Linked DNA regions of Homo sapiens: region 2 is linked to region 1. Evidence: fine-mapped expression QTL. Tissue or cell type: whole blood. Region 1 holds a variant in brackets; the other region holds the start of a gene. All regions are shown on one strand. Distances are between the middles of the regions.

Region 1 (8,100 bases):
CAAGACAAGGACTTCAGAGCTGATTATTTTGGTTTTGGGGTTTTTTGTTTGTTTTTGTTTTTGTTTTGTTTTTGAGGCGGAGTCTCACTCTGTCGCCCAGGCTGGACTGCTCACTGATGCTCACCGCAACTCCGCCTCCCGGGTTCAAGCGATTCTCCTGCCTCAGCCTCCCAAGTAGCTAGGATTACAGGCGCCCACCACCACGCCTGGCTAATTTTTGTATTTTTAGTAGAGATGGGGTTTCACTATGTTGGCCAGGCTGGTCTCGAACTCCTGACCTCAGGTGATCCACCCGCCTCGGCCTCCCAAAGTGCTGGGATGACAGGCGTGAGCCATGGCGCCCGGCCTGATTATTTCATTTACTCCCTGCAGCAACCCTGGACTGCAGGGGTGGTGATCACCCCCCATTTTACCAAACAGAAGCAGAGAGTGACCGCGGGTGCCCACCTGACCCCGTGTCTCCAGCGGGAACGTGAAGCTGATGCTGCTCCCGCCCCAGGCCTGAAGCCGGCCCCCTGCCCCAAACCAGCCTGACCAGCGGCACCGTGGAAACCCACCGGGATCTCTGCCACCCACAGGAGGCTGGGGCATCTCTCACCCCCTCTGTGCCTCAGTTTCCTAATCTGTCACACAGGGAGGCTGGACCCAAACCAATTGATTGTTGTCATGGGTGGAGCCGGAACCCGCTATGGCTCCCTCCTGCCCTCGGGATAAAATGCAGCCTCTGCCGTGCGGCCTCCTCACTCCCTCCCTCTCACCTTTTCAAGGTCCTGGAACCATCTCTGCACCTGTATCCCCCACCCCACCTGTCACCTTCAGGGCACTAGCAACACTCAACTCATGTCACTTCCTCCAGGAAGCCCTCCCTGAATTCCCGAACAAAGCTCCTGGTGTGGGCACCTGCTTTCACTCTTGGGCGGTGTTGTCTTCATCGGTTCACTCAATCAGGGTCTCAACTGGGGTAATTCTGTCCCCTCAGGGGACACTGGGCGGTGTCGGGGGACATCTGTAATTGTCATGACGGAGGGAAGTGGGACCTTCCCTGACTAATATTCCCTCACATCGGTCCATGCTCCTGGCATGGAGTGGGTGGAGGCCAGGGATGCTGCTCAGCACCCTGCAGTGCCCAGGACGGCCTCACCCCAGAGAACAGTCCAGTGTCAGTGTCCACAGTGCCCAGGGGGAGAGACCTGCTTTAATTATTTGGGAATAAACTGAGTGTCCTCCCTACTCACACCAGACACTGGAATAAACTCCAGATGGAGCAGACGGCATAAACCCGGGAGCCCCAGCTCCTGGGACTCATCTCCTCTCTCTCTTCCCACTCAGGTGTGGATTTCAATGTGTGCAGCCTCCTGGGACCTCCGCAGGGCAGAGGATCATGGGATGCAGAATCTCTTGGGGTCTGTGGAATCTTCTATCCCAGAGGGTCTCAACCAAGGTGTTTCTGTCCCAGGGGACGCTGGGTGATGTCTGGGGATATTTGTGGTTGTCATGACTGGGGGTGCTCCTGGCATGGAGTTGGTGGAGGCCAGGGACACTGTCAGCACCCTGCAGTGCCCAGGATGACCCACCCCAGAGAACGATCCACCTCACATGTTAAATGGCGGTAAGGGGGTGAACCCACCCCCTGCATGGCTCCAGGGGCACCCAGAGTGGGGCCCCAGCCCTGTGGCCGCCTCTCCTCCCACTTCCTCCGGGCGCCTGTCCTCTGCACCTGCATCCTCTGGCCCTGGCTCCCTTCAGAGCTGGTCACAGCTGGCAGCCCGCGTGCTGTAAACACCCACCCAGGCGTGCCAGCCAGACCTGGCTTTCTGTCACTCCCGGCTGATTCTGAATTCCCAGTCTCACATGGGCCAGAGGGTGACTGGCTCGAGACTTGCCTCTCATTACGAGCAAAGCTCTGATTCAGCCGGAATATTAGTCAGGGTACAGCATGTCACATTCCAGGAGGCTGATCAGCTCCGACCTCAACACCGGCAGCTGACTCAGCCCGGGGAGTTGCATGTGCTGACTACTCCTTCTGAGCCTCACAGTTATGTTCTCGAGATTTCACTCAGTGTCCTATGGTGTCACTGGTCCTGGTCGCAGACACAGACTCACCTGTGTGCAGGAGGTCAGGTGAGGATCGGTCCCAGCACCTTCATTCTTTGTTTCTTTCACTCACTCAGTAAACATCTGGTGAAGACTTGGACCAGATCCCTGATCTTAATGAAGGAGGTGACGGTCCGGCCCAGGTGACAGGCACAGTTAATGTGATGATCACAACACAGTTGCCATGTGACCCTGGGCACGTCAGCCCCTCTCAGCTACTGTTTTCTCCTATGTGAAGTGGAGATCATTATCTCAATCTCAACATGGCAAACAACACGGCAAGTGTATGAGTCAGCTACTGCTGAGTAACAACAGCGGCAACAAAGACACCATTTGCCATCTCACAACTTCTGTGTGTCAAGAGTCTGGCTTAACTGGGTCCCCCGCTCAGAGTCTTATAAGCCTAAAATCAAGGTATGGGCTGGGCCGAGTTGTCATCTGGAATTTGGGGTCCTCTTCTGAGCTAGTTTGGTTATCGGCAGAATTCATTTCCTTGCAGCTCTAGGAATGAGGTCCCTGTTTACCTACTGGCTGTTGGATGTGAGTGCTCTGAGCCCCTAGAGGCTACTCTCAGGTGTCTGCCACATGGACCCTCCACAGGCAGCTCACGACATAGCTGTTTGCTTTCTTTAAGGCAAGAAACCCCTTCCCTTTCTCTCTTTCTTTCAACTGTGGTGTGTGTGTGTGTGTGTATATATATATATAACATAAGACGGATCATCTTAACCACGTTTATGTGTACGGTTCAGTGATGTTAAGTATACTCACACTGCTGTGCAATGGCTCTCCAGAACCTTCCATCTTGTAAAACTGAGACACTGTATCCACTGAACAACAGCTCCCCTCTTCCCTCCCCCAGCCCCTAGCACCCACCATTCTCCCTTCTGTCTCTCTGAATTTGACACCTCGGGATGTGCTTCTGGTCTCTTTTATGGGCTCACCTGATGAGGTCAGGCCCACCCAGGATGTCTCCTTTTTGATGAGCTCAGGTCAACTGACTAGGAATCTTCGTCGCATCTGCAAAATCCCTTTACCGAACACACGACCTAACTGCATTAACCTAACCACTGGAGTGACACCCCATCGTATTCGCAGGTCCAGCCCATCCTCAAGTGCAGGGGATTAGATAAGATGTGGGCACCAGGCGGTGGGGGTCTTGGGCGCCATCTTGGAATTCTGCCTAGGACTGTAGCTGTAAAAGACATGGTGGCCATTGCTGCTGTAGGTGCCATTAGTAGGAAACACACACAAAGTGGCCCCCAAGGAGCACGTACTATGCATCAGGCTCTGTGCAAGGCACAGAGAAAACAGCAAAGAACTTTGGGGAAAGTTGAAGACTTGAGGTGAACAACTGGATATCTTAGTAGGTCTCTCTGAAGGTTGAGCAAATGGATAGGGGATATTGGGAGATGGGTTATGTCCCTTGGAAAGAACTCCAAATGTCCCTTTCAATAACTTTCCACTCTACCAGTCATCTCCTCCTTCCAGAAATTCTCAGGAGGCAGCGCTTGGTGGCTCTTCTGCAGATGCCAGGATGGTGACGGTGACAGCAGGCCACGCTCTTGTGTTTAGAATAGGAGGTCCCCAAGGACACAGAGTCACAGACGGGTCAGGTAAGTTGCCTGGGCGCCCACACGAATAGGAGGTGCTTCTGGATTTGAAACAAGTCTTCTAGTGCTAGGAGCCCCAGAACACACCTAGTGCCACCCCCTCCCCACGACAAAGCCCACCAGAAGGGCTGGCTGCCTAAAGAGGTAGTGGACAAGACCTCACAGACTCACAGACTAGTGGGAGAAGACAGAAGAGCGTAGCCCTGAACGCAGTGTGGGGGCACACGGTGATTGGAACCTGGCACCCACATCAACGGTCAAAGTCTAGATGGTTTTGTTTGGTTGTACTCCCGCCTCCCTCTGACCCCATGCCCACGAGTAAGAGGAGCTCCGTCCACATTTATGGACACTTAATGTTCCTGCACACCCATAAATAAGGTGAAGCCGAGTCTGCATGTGTGCGAAAGGGCACAGAGCTTTGCACATACATGGTGCCAGGGTCCATTTCCTGGTTTTGTACTATGGTTACGTAAGATGTCACCACTGGGGGAAACTGTGAAGATACATGTGATGTTTTTTGCTCTGTGTGATTTTTGCAACTTCCTCTGAATCTGTAATGATTT[C/T]AAAATAAAGGTTGTTTTTTTTTTTTAATAAGTGGAGACACATTTAGGTGTAACTGGGACACAGCCTGCCACCTACTTTCCAAATGCCTCCTTTCTCCCAATAACCCCCACCCTCTCCCCAAAGACCTGGCAGTACTCCTGCAAGAGGAAGGGATGGACGCCAGAAAAAGGGAGTGAAGGTCCTGCTGATTCGGTCCTGGCTGAGGCCGAACGCAGGCCCCCCCTTCCCTTTGCCACCAAGAGGAGTCTAAGATCTCCCTGGAGAACATATCTTGTAGAACCCCCTCCCCTTGAGTGTGGGCAGGGCCCGTGGACATGATGAGATATCACTCCCCTGATTAGGTTGCTTTTCAGGAAAGAAGGGATTTTGAAGAGGTAAATAAGGTCCTAAATCAGTTGACCTTGAGTTCACTGAAAGGGCGATTATCCTAGGTGGGCCTGGTCTAATCAGGTGACCCTTTAAAAGGGATTGGGCCTTTCCTGAAATGAGAGCCTGGAAGCATGAGGGGCCTATGGAGAAGGCCAAGTGGCCTGAGAGTGGCCTCAAAGAGCTGAGAGTTGCCCCCTCCTGACAGCTAACAACGCAACAGAAACAGTCTATCAACCACAAAGAACTGAATTCTGAATGAGCCTGGAATGAGCTTGGAAGGGGATCCGTCACCACACAAACCTTCGGATGAGAATGCAGCCCTGGCTCACATCTCCGAGGTCAGAAGTTTGGACATAGTGTGGCTGGGTCCTCTGTGCAGGGTCTTACCCAGCCACACTACATCCAAACTTCTGACCTATGGAACCATGAGATAATAAATGGGTGTCACTCTAAGCTACTGCATTCATGGTAGTTGTTACGCAGCCATAGCTAGCTAATACACTCTTTATGTGCTGCAGACTAGAGCATTCTGGGATTTTATGGTCAGCTTTCAAACTTATTCATACACAAGGGTTTGGACATCATGTCCCTCCACAATCAGCCAAGCAACTCAGCAGTTTCCTCCTGAGTATGTCTGAGTATATCATCAAAAAGGTCTAATGACTATGACATTATCTGATTGTCTCAACAGCACTGTGTGGGGCTGAGGAGGCATAGCAGGCATGAAGACCAGAGGAAGAATGGTGCATTTAGTATTAGACAGCTTGACATGCATTAACCCCTTGAGAGGCAGGCACTGCCTATTCTCCCCCCTTTCACAGACGAGGGCATTGAGGTTCAGAAAAGCACAGAGATGGCCCAGGGTCACAGAGCCAGTAGGTGGCAGAGTTGGGAGCCCAAGCCCTAAACTGCTGGTTATGTCACCTCATGAAGCCACTTAACCTCGCTAGGTCTCAGCATCCTTATCTGTCCAGTGACGATCATTCTTTCCTCACGAGTGGTTATGAGATGAAATCAGATAACTCAAGGCCTCTAGGCTGAGGGTCAGCAAACCTTTTCTGCAAAAGGCCACTGAGCTCTGTCCTTGTAGTATGAAAGCAGTCACTGATGACAGGTAAATGAATGTCTGTGGCCGTGTGCCAATAAAACTTTATTCATAAAAACAGGAAGTGGAACAGAGAACTTGGCCCAGGGACCTGCAGTATGTCTGTGGCTGTGTGCCAATAAAACTTTATTTATACAAACAGGGAGTGGAGGGGGGAACTTGGCCCAGGGAGCTGCAGTTTGTCTGTGGCTGTGTGCCAATAAAACTTCATTTATAAAAACAGGAAGTGGAGGGCCAGACTGGGCCTGGGGTGGGGGCACAGCATGTCTGTGGCTGTATGCCAATAAAACTTTATTTATAAAAACAGGAACTAGATGGGGGACTTGGCCTGGGGGCCACAGTTTTCGACCCCGGCTTTAGCAGTTTTTTCCTTCTTTTGCTAACTTCTAAAATGAAGCCGACTGACCCTAGAAGTGCCATTTCTGAAAGAGGAAGAGAGAAAAGGGGTGAAAGGACGTTGAACCAGCCAAGGCAGACTACAGCATTTTCAGGGCGTCTCCCCAAGATCTCCAATAAGGACAACTAGCATCGACTAGGCTAATCCCGTGACGGCCTGTTCTGCGGGGACATCATCACCCTGGTGCTGCCCTCTCCCCCATTCTCTAGAGAAAGGAGCCCCAAAAGAACAGATAAACTCTGCCTCCTAGAAAGGTAAGACTCCTGGCCTGGCGCTGTGTGGGATCATGCCTGTAATCCCAGCACTTTGGGAGGCAGAGGCAGGTGGATCACTTGAGGTCAGGAGTTCGAGACCAGCCTGACCAACATGGTGAAACCCGTCTCTACTAAAAATACAAAAATTAGCCAGGCGTGGTGTCAGGCACCTGTAATCCCAGCTACTTGGGAGGCTGAGGCAGGAGAATTGCTTGAACCCGGGAGGTGGAGGTTGCAGTGAGCCGAGATTATGCTATTGCATTCTAGCCTGGGAGACAAGAGTGAAACTCCATCTCAAAAAAAAAAAAAACAAAAAAACCCAACCTGCTATAAACAAAACTCACACACACACACACACACACACACACACACACACACGCACACAGAAAACAGACTGGGAATTGTAAAAACAGCTGACGAACAGAGACTTTCTACTCTACAGGGAAGTCTCTCACCGTCAGCACTGTGGACATCGGGACTGGATCCATCTCTGGGGTGAGGCTGCCCTGGCACTGCAGGGTGCTGAGCAGAGTCCCTGGCCTCCACCCACTCCCTGCCAGGAGCACCCCTTAGTTACACTGAGCTATGATCGCACCACTGCACTCGCACCTGGGCAACAGAGTGAGACTCTGACTCTAAAATAATAATAATAACAAGAATATAAGAATAATAATTCAGATCCATGTCCGATAAAAATAATAAATAAGTAAAGCTGAGGCTCTAACATGAAGTCATTACGAGGCTCATCCAGCCACAGTGGGCTCTGCACTGGGGCACCCGCCTGGGCCTCTGCCTGGCCCATGTCTGCTCAGGAGCCCTCAGCCCCTTGAACCCTGCTGGTGGGACAGGGGGCCCCTCTACCAGGCCCCTAACTTCTCAACAGACCCCACCTTGGGCCTCCCCAGGCTGCACCTTAACCATCTATGACACGCATCCCCAGGCGGCACCGGGAGTGTCTGCGCAGAGATCCGAGGGTGTTAGCCTGGCAGGGGCCCTGCAGGTGGGTGCTGGTTCACTAAAACGATGAAGCGGATGGGAGGAAAATTAGCATCCAACGGGCCTCATCATTGCTGTCCTGGGCAATGGACTCTGACCCCTGCTGTAGAGGGTCAGAGAGGGTCAAGGTCAAGCCACAGATTGGCAGAGCCATCCTCTCTGGCCTCCACTCGGCTCCCCCATGTCCCCTGCCCCCAGCATCTCATCATATGCGACTGTCACCGCCGTGTGTATTTTGAGTCAAAGGCGGCCAAGGCTCGATGAATCTGCCGATGACCAAGTTGGTGCCTCATCCCTCGTTCTGTGGGAGGCTGACTGTTCAAGCGGTTGCTTAGCAACAGGCGCGCGCGCGCGCGCGCACACACACACACACACACACACACACACACACACACGAGAGGTGGCTGTGGTCTGCACACTGGGCTGGGGTACTCAGATCCCCGGGCTCGGTGGTCGTGGATGTGAGCCTCTCTGGGTATGGAGCCTCAATCAGTAGAGTCAGGTGGTCGCAATAACAGCTCTGAAACGGGGATTCATTGAGAGGACATCGGTGGGCTTGAAAACGGGTGTCTGTTTACCGGGGCTTGAGTGGGAGCTGTAGTAATTCTGTCCAGAAGAGGACAGAAGCCTGCTCTCAACTCACCCGGGAGGCAGGTTCTTCTGCACCGGGCCTTCTCCCCCCGGCACTGTGGGCATTTGGGGCTGAATCAT
Region 2 (8,100 bases), 150 kb before region 1:
GTGAGTTCTGGCGCCCAGCCCAAAGATAATAGCACACATTTCCTGAGTGCTTACCTGATTCTGGGAATTTCCTCCTTCAATGCCTGTGATGAAGCCTTTGTGTGACTGTTCCCATCTTACAGAGAAAGAAACTGAGGCTGGAGCTCATTTTCTTTTTTTTTTTTTTTTTGAGAAAGAGTCTCACTCTTGTTGTCCAGGCTGGAGTGCAGTGGCACGATCTCGGCTCATTGCAACCTCCACCTCCCGAGTTCAAGCGATTCTCCTGCCTCAGCCTCCTGAGTAGCTGGGACTACAGGCATGCGCCACCATGCCTGGCTAATTTTTATATTTTTAGTAGAGATGGAGTTTCACCATGCTGGCCAGGCTGGTCTTGAACTCCTGACCTCGGGTGATCCACCCGCCTCGGCCTCCCAACATGCTGGGATTACAGGCATGAGCCACCACGCCTGGCCCGGCTGGAGCTCATTTTCTGAGCTCAAAGGCACAGAGCTCAGAGTCTCTTGAAGATATTCCAAGATACTCCAGATATTCTAAGATGCCTGGAGCCAGGGCTGGAAAAAGGAGGCACAGGTGGGCTTGGGGTCTAGAAAGAGAAGCCTGGAGGGTGGAGGACCATGGGGGTCCAGGCAGTCAGTCTGGGAGAAAACAAGGCCAAGTCAGTGTTGACAGAGGAGTAGGGTTTTCCTGCTGAAGACCAGAGGAAGACAGCATCCCAGGCGGAGGAAACAGCTGACAAAGGCTGGGCCTCTCGCAGAGGAGGTTGTTATGGCTGGCACGGGGGACACACGGAAGAAGGACTTGGACACATATTCTCTGAGGCCCTGCTTTGCTCGCCTTATTTTATTTATTTTATTTGCTTTATTTTTGACACAGTGTCTCGCTCTGTCTCCCAGGCTGGAATGCAGTGGTGCAATCTCGGCTCACTGCAACCTCCACCTCCCGGGTTCAAGCGATTCTCCTGCCTCAGCCTCCCGAGTAGCTGGGATTATAGGCATGTGCCACCATGCCCAGGTAATTTTTGTATTTTTTGTAGAGACGGGGTTTCACCATGTTGGCCAGGTTGGTTTTGAACTCCTGACCCCAGATGATCCACCTGCCTCAGCCTCCCAAAGTGCTGGGATTACAGGCATGAGCCACCGTGCCCAGCCCTTATTTTATTTATTTATTTGAGACGGGGTCTCACTCTGTTGCCCAGGCTGGAATGCAACTGTGCAATCCCGGCTCACTGCAGCCAGGAACCCCTGGGCTCAAGTGATCCTCCTGTCTCAGCCTCCGGAGTAGCTGGGTGCACACAACACACCCCATTCTTTCTTTCTTTTTTTTTTTTTTAAAGACTGAGTCTCACTCTGTCACTCAGGCTGGAGTGCAGTGGCACGATCTCGGCTCACTGCAATCTCGGCTTACTGCAACCTCTGCCTCCCAAGTTCAAGCAATTCTCCTGCCTCAGCCCCCAGAGTAGCTGGGATTACAGGCATGTGCCACCACGCCCGACTGATTTTGTATTTTTAGTAGAGATGGGGTTTCTCCAGGTTGGTCAGGCTGGTCTTGAATTCCCAGCCTCAGGTGATCCTCCTGCCTCAGACTCCCCAAGTGCTGGGATTACAGGAGTGAGCTACCGTGCCCGGCCTTTTTGTTTGTTTGTTTGTTTGTTTGTTTGTTTTGGGGAGGATGGAGTCTCTCTCTGTCACCATGCCATGTGCAGTGGCATGATCTCGGCTCACTGCAACCTCCACCTCCTGGGTTCAAGTGATACTCCTGCCTCAGCCTCCTGAGTAAGCTGGGATTACAGGCGCGTGCCACCACGCCCAGCTAATTTTTGTGTTTTTAGTAGAGACAGGGTTTCACCATGTTGGTCAGGCTGGTCTCGAACTGACCTCACGATCTGCCCGCCTCAGCCTCCTAATGTGCTGGGATTACCCAGCCTGCAATACTTTTTAAAAATCAAAATCAATGCCCAAGTATCCATGAGGAACAAAATATCAAAATTGTAAATAAAGACAGAATCTGACTTTGCACTTATCCCACCCACCTCCCTGATCTTCCTTATCTTCAGCTCATGTTGGCCATGTTGGTCAGGTTGGTCTCGAACTCCTGACCTCAGTTGATCCGCCCGCCTCGGACTCCCAAAGTGCTGGGATTACAGGCGTAAGCCACCGCGCCCGGCCGATTTAACTTTTAAATTGAAATTATAAAATATAAATATGTATGTTGCATGCGTAAAACATTGCATAAAGTTACATAAAACGTTGCAACCGCCACGGTCCCCTTATCCCCCGCCTCCAGCCCAGTGCCCCGCCCGTCCGTCCCTCTCTTCCGGCGCTGAGGGCGCAGAAACTCGGCGCGGCCACCAGATGGCGCCACCGCGCCTCGCAGCCCCGGGACATTTCGTGCCCCAGCGGTGGGCGGCGCGGAGGAGGTGGGATGCGTCAGCCGGACCCGCGGGCCGGGGAGCCGGGCAACTGGGGAAAGTGAGCCGCCGGGCGGAGGCCAGACCCCAGGCTGGCGGGGGAGGGGACTCAGATGTGAGTCACCCGGGAGCCCCCAGTCGACCGTGGGAGACGTTGTCATGCGGGGCCTGCCAGCCTCGCTCCTGAACAGCCTTCCCGGGGCGGCGGAGTCCTGCAGGCGGCCGTGCCTGGCGCACACGCGTGGCTCCAACACGAACTAGCCTATGGCCTCACCAAGCCTCAGTTTCCCCTTTTGCATAATGCACATAAGCATCCCCCCTGCTTCCCAGGTCTTGGATTAAATCATCCATGAATCCGGAGGGGTGGGGGGTACCAGGTCCGCACCACGCACTCAATGCAGGTCAGCGCCCACCCCGGAGTGAGAAATAAAAGTAGCCGTCATCCTTGCACGTGGGCCCTGGGTGGCGGCGTGCAGCCGGAGCCTGCACCATTCCCCTCAACAATGGCTTTCTCCAGGGCCTGGAGGCCTCCGCACGGGCAAAGGCTGGAACGCCAGGCAGCCGGCGGGGGCGGGGCCGCGCCACCTGCACCTCCCACGCGCACCCCACCCTGATACTCGCGGGGTCGGCGAGGAGGCGCCCACTTTCTTCTCCAGAGCGCCCCGGGCTTTGCAACCTCCCACTTTCGGGGCCCTCGAGGAGGCCTCCCGCGACCACCAGGTGACAGCTGATGTGTATTGGGCTCTTACTGTCAGCCGTATTTTATGCCATGCTCTGCAAACCAGCGAGGCCGGCGCTGCAGACCCATTACTCAGACGGGAACAGAGAGGCCGGGAGAAGCGAAATCACCCAGGGGCTGGGGTCGTCGCAGCCAGGAGAGACTCCGGCCCTCACCACCACCTGGGCGAGATCACGCTGCAAACGGGGCCCCTTCCCGGTGCAGCCCCTCCACCCCCAGCAGAACTTGGGAAAGGCGCGGTCCGGGACTCTCCGCGGATCGGGAGGGGATTCCAGGCCCCCCCGAAAGTCCGGGCCGCCTCGCGCGCTGGAAATCCCGCGCGCGCCCCGAACCGCGGCTCGGCTGCCGGGAAATCAGGAGAAAAAAACTTCTGCTTTTTTTTCTTTTCTGGCATTCGCGGTCACCTACCCGGCCCCCGCGCGCCCTCCTCCCGGTTCTCGCCCCCACGTGGGGCGCCCCCGCACGCCGCTCCTCCCCCTCCCCTCCGTCGGCCAACCGCAGAGCTAGCTGCACTCGCCCTTGTCTTTCCACCAATAGGAGGGGCGAATGACTCCACTGAGGCCACGCCCAATGTTCAAGTCTATAAAAGTCGGTGCCGGAGGCTCCCAGCTCAGATCGCCGAAGCGTCGGACTACCGTTGGTTTCCGCAACTTCCTGGATTATCCTCGCCAAGGACTTTGCAATATATTTTTCCGCCTTTTCTGGAAGGATTTCGCTGCTTCCCGAAGGTCTTGGACGAGCGCTCTAGCTCTGTGGGAAGGTTTTGGGCTCTCTGGCTCGGATTTTGCAATTTCTCCCTGGGGACTGCCGTGGAGCCGCATCCACTGTGGATTATAATTGCAACATGACGCTGGAAGAGCTCGTGGCGTGCGACAACGCGGCGCAGAAGTAAGTAGCCGGGGCTGCCGCCGCCTGAGGTCAGCCGGGACGGGATGGGTCGGGTTGGGCCGGGCCGGGAGCGGAACGTAGCACCCGGTGGTCCGCCCGTCACTGATCCCTCTTTCCTGGTCTCAGGATGCAGACGGTGACCGCCGCGGTGGAGGAGCTTTTGGTGGCCGCTCAGCGCCAGGATCGCCTCACAGTGGGGGTGTACGAGTCGGCCAAGTTGATGAATGTGTGAGTCAGACCCCCTTCCCGGGCTGGGCGCGGGTGGGACGGGACCTCCCCTCCGCTCTGGACGCTTTCCGCACGCTTGTCTTGCATGGAGCTGGGACTTCCCCAAGTGCCCCCCGCTGTGGATGCAGAGCTTCTCTGCCGTTTTGTGGATCGGGGGCTGCCGTATCCTGATGTATCGTCTGCAAACACCCCTCCCGCCGTGGGCCTGTCTCCCCCTACCCCATACTTTGAACCGTGTGCCCTCCCCTCCCCCCACCGTCACCAGCTTGCAGAGGCAATCCCCTGCACCCTTGCAGTTTCTCTTTTGCTCTTGCACGCTCCTTTTTTGCAAACTCCCCCTGCACGGTGGCCCCTCCCCTGTCCCCGGCTGACCCATCCCTACCCTTTGGCCCCCTCAGGGACCCAGACAGCGTGGTCCTCTGCCTCTTGGCCATTGACGAGGAGGAGGAGGATGACATCGCCCTGCAAATCCACTTCACGCTCATCCAGTCCTTCTGCTGTGACAACGACATCAACATCGTGCGGGTGTCGGGCATGCAGCGCCTGGCGCAGCTCCTGGGAGAGCCGGCCGAGACCCAGGGCACCACCGAGGCCCGAGACCTGCATTGTCTCCTGGTCACGGTGAGTCGGGCCTCTGCCCTGCCCCGCCACGCCCGGGCACCTGGGCCGGTGTTTGTCAACAAAGTCGGGCTGACTGGTCCTGCACAGCTCAGCGCTCAGCCACGTTTGGCATGTCCCGTGGGCAGCCGGGCTGGGGCCTCCTCACCCAGGAAGCTATTTTGAGCCTGACTGTTTTCCCCACACAGGGGCCCCGGGAGAGGGAGGCTCCACTAAACCCCTTCTTTTCCCTCCTACAGAACCCTCACACGGACGCCTGGAAGAGCCACGGCTTGGTGGAGGTGGCCAGCTACTGCGAAGAAAGCCGGGGCAACAACCAGTGGGTCCCCTACATCTCTCTTCAGGAACGCTGAGGCCCTTCCCAGCAGCAGAATCTGTTGAGTTGCTGCCACAAACAAAAAATACAATAAATATTTGAACCCCCTCCCCCCCAGCACAACCCCCCCAAAACAACCCAACCCACGAGGACCATCGGGGGCAGAGTCGTTGGAGACTGAAGAGGAAGAGGAGGAGGAGAAGGGGAGTGAGCGGCCGCCCCCAGGGCGGAGATCCAGGAGCTGGCGGCCGCCGATCCGATGGAGAAGGGGGGACCCAGGCCAGCAGGAGACAGGACCCCCGAAGCTGAGGCCTTGGGATGGAGCAGAAGCCGGAGTGGCGGGGCACGCTGCCGCCTTCCCCATCACGGAGGGTCCAGACTGTCCACTCGGGGGTGGAGTGAGACTGACTGCAAGCCCCACCCTCCTTGAGACTGGAGCTGGCGTCTGCATACGAGAGACTTGGTTGAACTTGGTTGGTCCTTGTCTGCACCCTCGACAAGACCACACTTTGGGACTTGGGAGCTGGGGCTGAAGTTGCTCTGTACCCATGAACTCCCAGTTTGCGAATTATAGAGACAATCTATTTTGTTACTTGCACTTGTTATTCGAACCACTGAGAGCGAGATGGGAAGCATAGATATCTATATTTTTATTTCTACTATGAGGGCCTTGTAATAAATTTCTAAAGCCTCTGGTTGCTTGTATGTTTTCGGCTTCTAGAACAACTAGGACCCCTGCCCCCTCCCCGGGGACACGCTTCACCCCCCACAACCCCCGCCAGCTCACCAGGAAGTGTTACTTAAGCCCCTGTTAGCAGCTCCAGGCTCCCGTGCAGAAACAGTACCCCTTCTCTCCGCAGCAGGCGCCGCCACCGACTCCAACAAATCTATGCCTCTTTTTTTTTTTCCTTCTCCTCCTACCCTGCAGCAATTAAGAGACCGGTTTATTACGAAACCTGGCCGCCGTGCCACCACTGTTACTGGCTGTGCAGGAGCCAACCCCAAGCTCTGGGCACATATGGAGGCATTTCAGCGGGAGGGGGTGCTGGCTGCAGCCCCTGACCGCCTAGGCGGCCACCGCAGCCCAAGGTCCGGATCGGTCAAGGGGGCACCTGGTACCACACAGCGAGGTGAGCTCAGGGCTTGCAAGGAAGAGCGCTTTTGGAGGCTTCCCCAGGGAGTGCCCCCCCAGCCCACCACAGCCTTCTCCATCCCAGGATAGGCCTCTCTTTTGCACTAAAGAAAAAAACTTTTTTTATTTCCGCAAACTAAAATCAACAAGCAGAAAAATACCCCAGGAAGTCGGCCTCCGGGCCAGCCGGGCTTGGCGCAGTGCTGCGTTTTGCCTGTAAACCGAAACTGCGAGCCCTGGCCAGCCACCTCCTACTTCTCCCAAAGTTGCAGGCGCGGTGGTGACTCCCCCTGCCCCGGGCTGGGAGCGTGGCCCAGCCCTTCCGTGCCCGGCCTCAGTCTTCCCGCCCCGGGTCTGCAGAGTGGGCCCGCCCTGGCCAGGCGCCGGGACGACCTCGGTTCCCCTCTGCCCTGCAGCCCCCAAGCCTGGGAACTAGGGGGGAGTGGGGAGGGGGTGGGGTGGTCCTGCCCGCAGGCCGCGACCTTTCCACGGAGCCTCACGTGGGCGCATGAGGAAAACCCCAGCGGCTCCCTAGGAGTCACGGGGATCGGGGGAGCCCCGACGGGGGAGGGAGAGAGAGAAGGAGGGGGAAGTCCCAGAGGGAGAAGCGGGGAGGGGAGAGGATCCCGCCTGGGGCTAGGAGGAGGGGAGAACTGAAGTGGGGAGAGGGGAGCCCAAGAAGGGGAAGGGGAATCCCCCACAGCCCTGAACCAACAGGGAAACCCCGGGAGGGGGGTAGACAGGTAGGAGTCCCGAAGGGGTTGGGGGAGGGGAGAATGGAGGCGAAGAGGCGGGAGCCCCGAGGGGGTAGGGGGTGATGGAGTGGGGATCCCTGAGATGGAGCCCAAGAGGGGAGGGCACCTGGGAAGAGTGACAGAGGGCGAGGGGCTCTTGAGGGATTGGGGTGCGGGAGAACATGTGGGGCCAAAACCCAAGGGGGCTCCAGGTGGGGAAGGACCAGGTGGGGCAAGGGTGCGCCTAGCGGCGGCCTGGAAAAGCTCTGGCTTTTCTTTTTCTTTCTTTTGAGACAGTCTCACTCCATCGCCCAGGCTGGAGTGCAGTGGCACGATCTCGCCTCCCTGCAGCCTCCACCTCCTGGGTTCAAGCGATTCTCCTGAGTAGCTGGGACCACAAGGACCCACTACCACACCCACTAGTTTTTGTATTTTTAGTAGAGATGGGGTTTCACCATGTTGGCCAGACTGGTCTCAAACTCCTGACCTCACGCCCGACTTGGCCTGCAAAATGCTGAGATTACAGGTCTGAGCCACCGCTCCCAGTCTCTGGCTCTTCGTTGGTCAACCTCGTAGGGTAGGGAGGCGAGGCCAGCTCGGAGGGCTATGCCCCCGGGGATCGGATGGTCTGTCTCCATCCGGATTGTTCCATTCTTGCTCCTCGGTCTCTAGAACTGTGCAGCAGGATCTCAGGCTCCTGAGCCCCAAGTGGAGACAGGGCATGGAGGGGCCCCAGTGGTGGGACCCTCAGCCAGGACCTTCACCTGTCTGTGCCTCAGTTTCTCCCTCTGAAAAATGGGGGATAATGCTACCTAGCTCATAGATTGTTGAGGAGGTTAAATGATATATAGATTCCTGGGCCGGCCCTGTGGCTCACTCTCTGTAATCCCAAGACTTTGGGAGGCTTGGGGGAGGTGGGGAGGAATCCCTGAACCCAGGAGTTTGAGACCAGCATGGGCAAACATAGAGAGATCCAGATCTCTACAAAAAAATTTAAAAATTAGCTGGGCATGGTGGTGTGGGCCTGTGGTCCCAGCT

What was found. PIP is the estimated chance that this variant, and not a neighbour inherited with it, causes the effect.
Region 2: it holds the start of GADD45B, and the variant in region 1 is fine-mapped to the expression of GADD45B in whole blood (TOPMed, PIP above 0.99).

Annotation. Positions count from the first base shown.
Region 1 is chr19:2,625,741-2,633,840 of GRCh38, forward strand. All of the region lies in intron 2 of GNG7 (G protein subunit gamma 7), which reads right to left. It overlaps MIR7850 (microRNA 7850), which reads left to right and starts at 4,975; the gene lies at 4,975-5,053. RefSeq lists an enhancer at 1,241-2,440. The variant C/T (reference allele first, on the strand shown) is at 4,268.
Region 2 is chr19:2,472,369-2,480,468 of GRCh38, forward strand. GADD45B (growth arrest and DNA damage inducible beta) reads left to right here and starts at 3,759. Exons shown (of 4, transcript NM_015675.4): 1 at 3,759-4,034; 2 at 4,161-4,262; 3 at 4,661-4,883; 4 at 5,120-5,889. The coding sequence starts at 3,991. The coding sequence ends at 5,233. RefSeq lists silencers at 2,400-2,539, 2,910-3,019, 6,580-7,159 and enhancers at 3,760-3,829, 3,831-4,418, 4,400-4,489, 4,419-5,008, 4,650-4,759 and 8 more.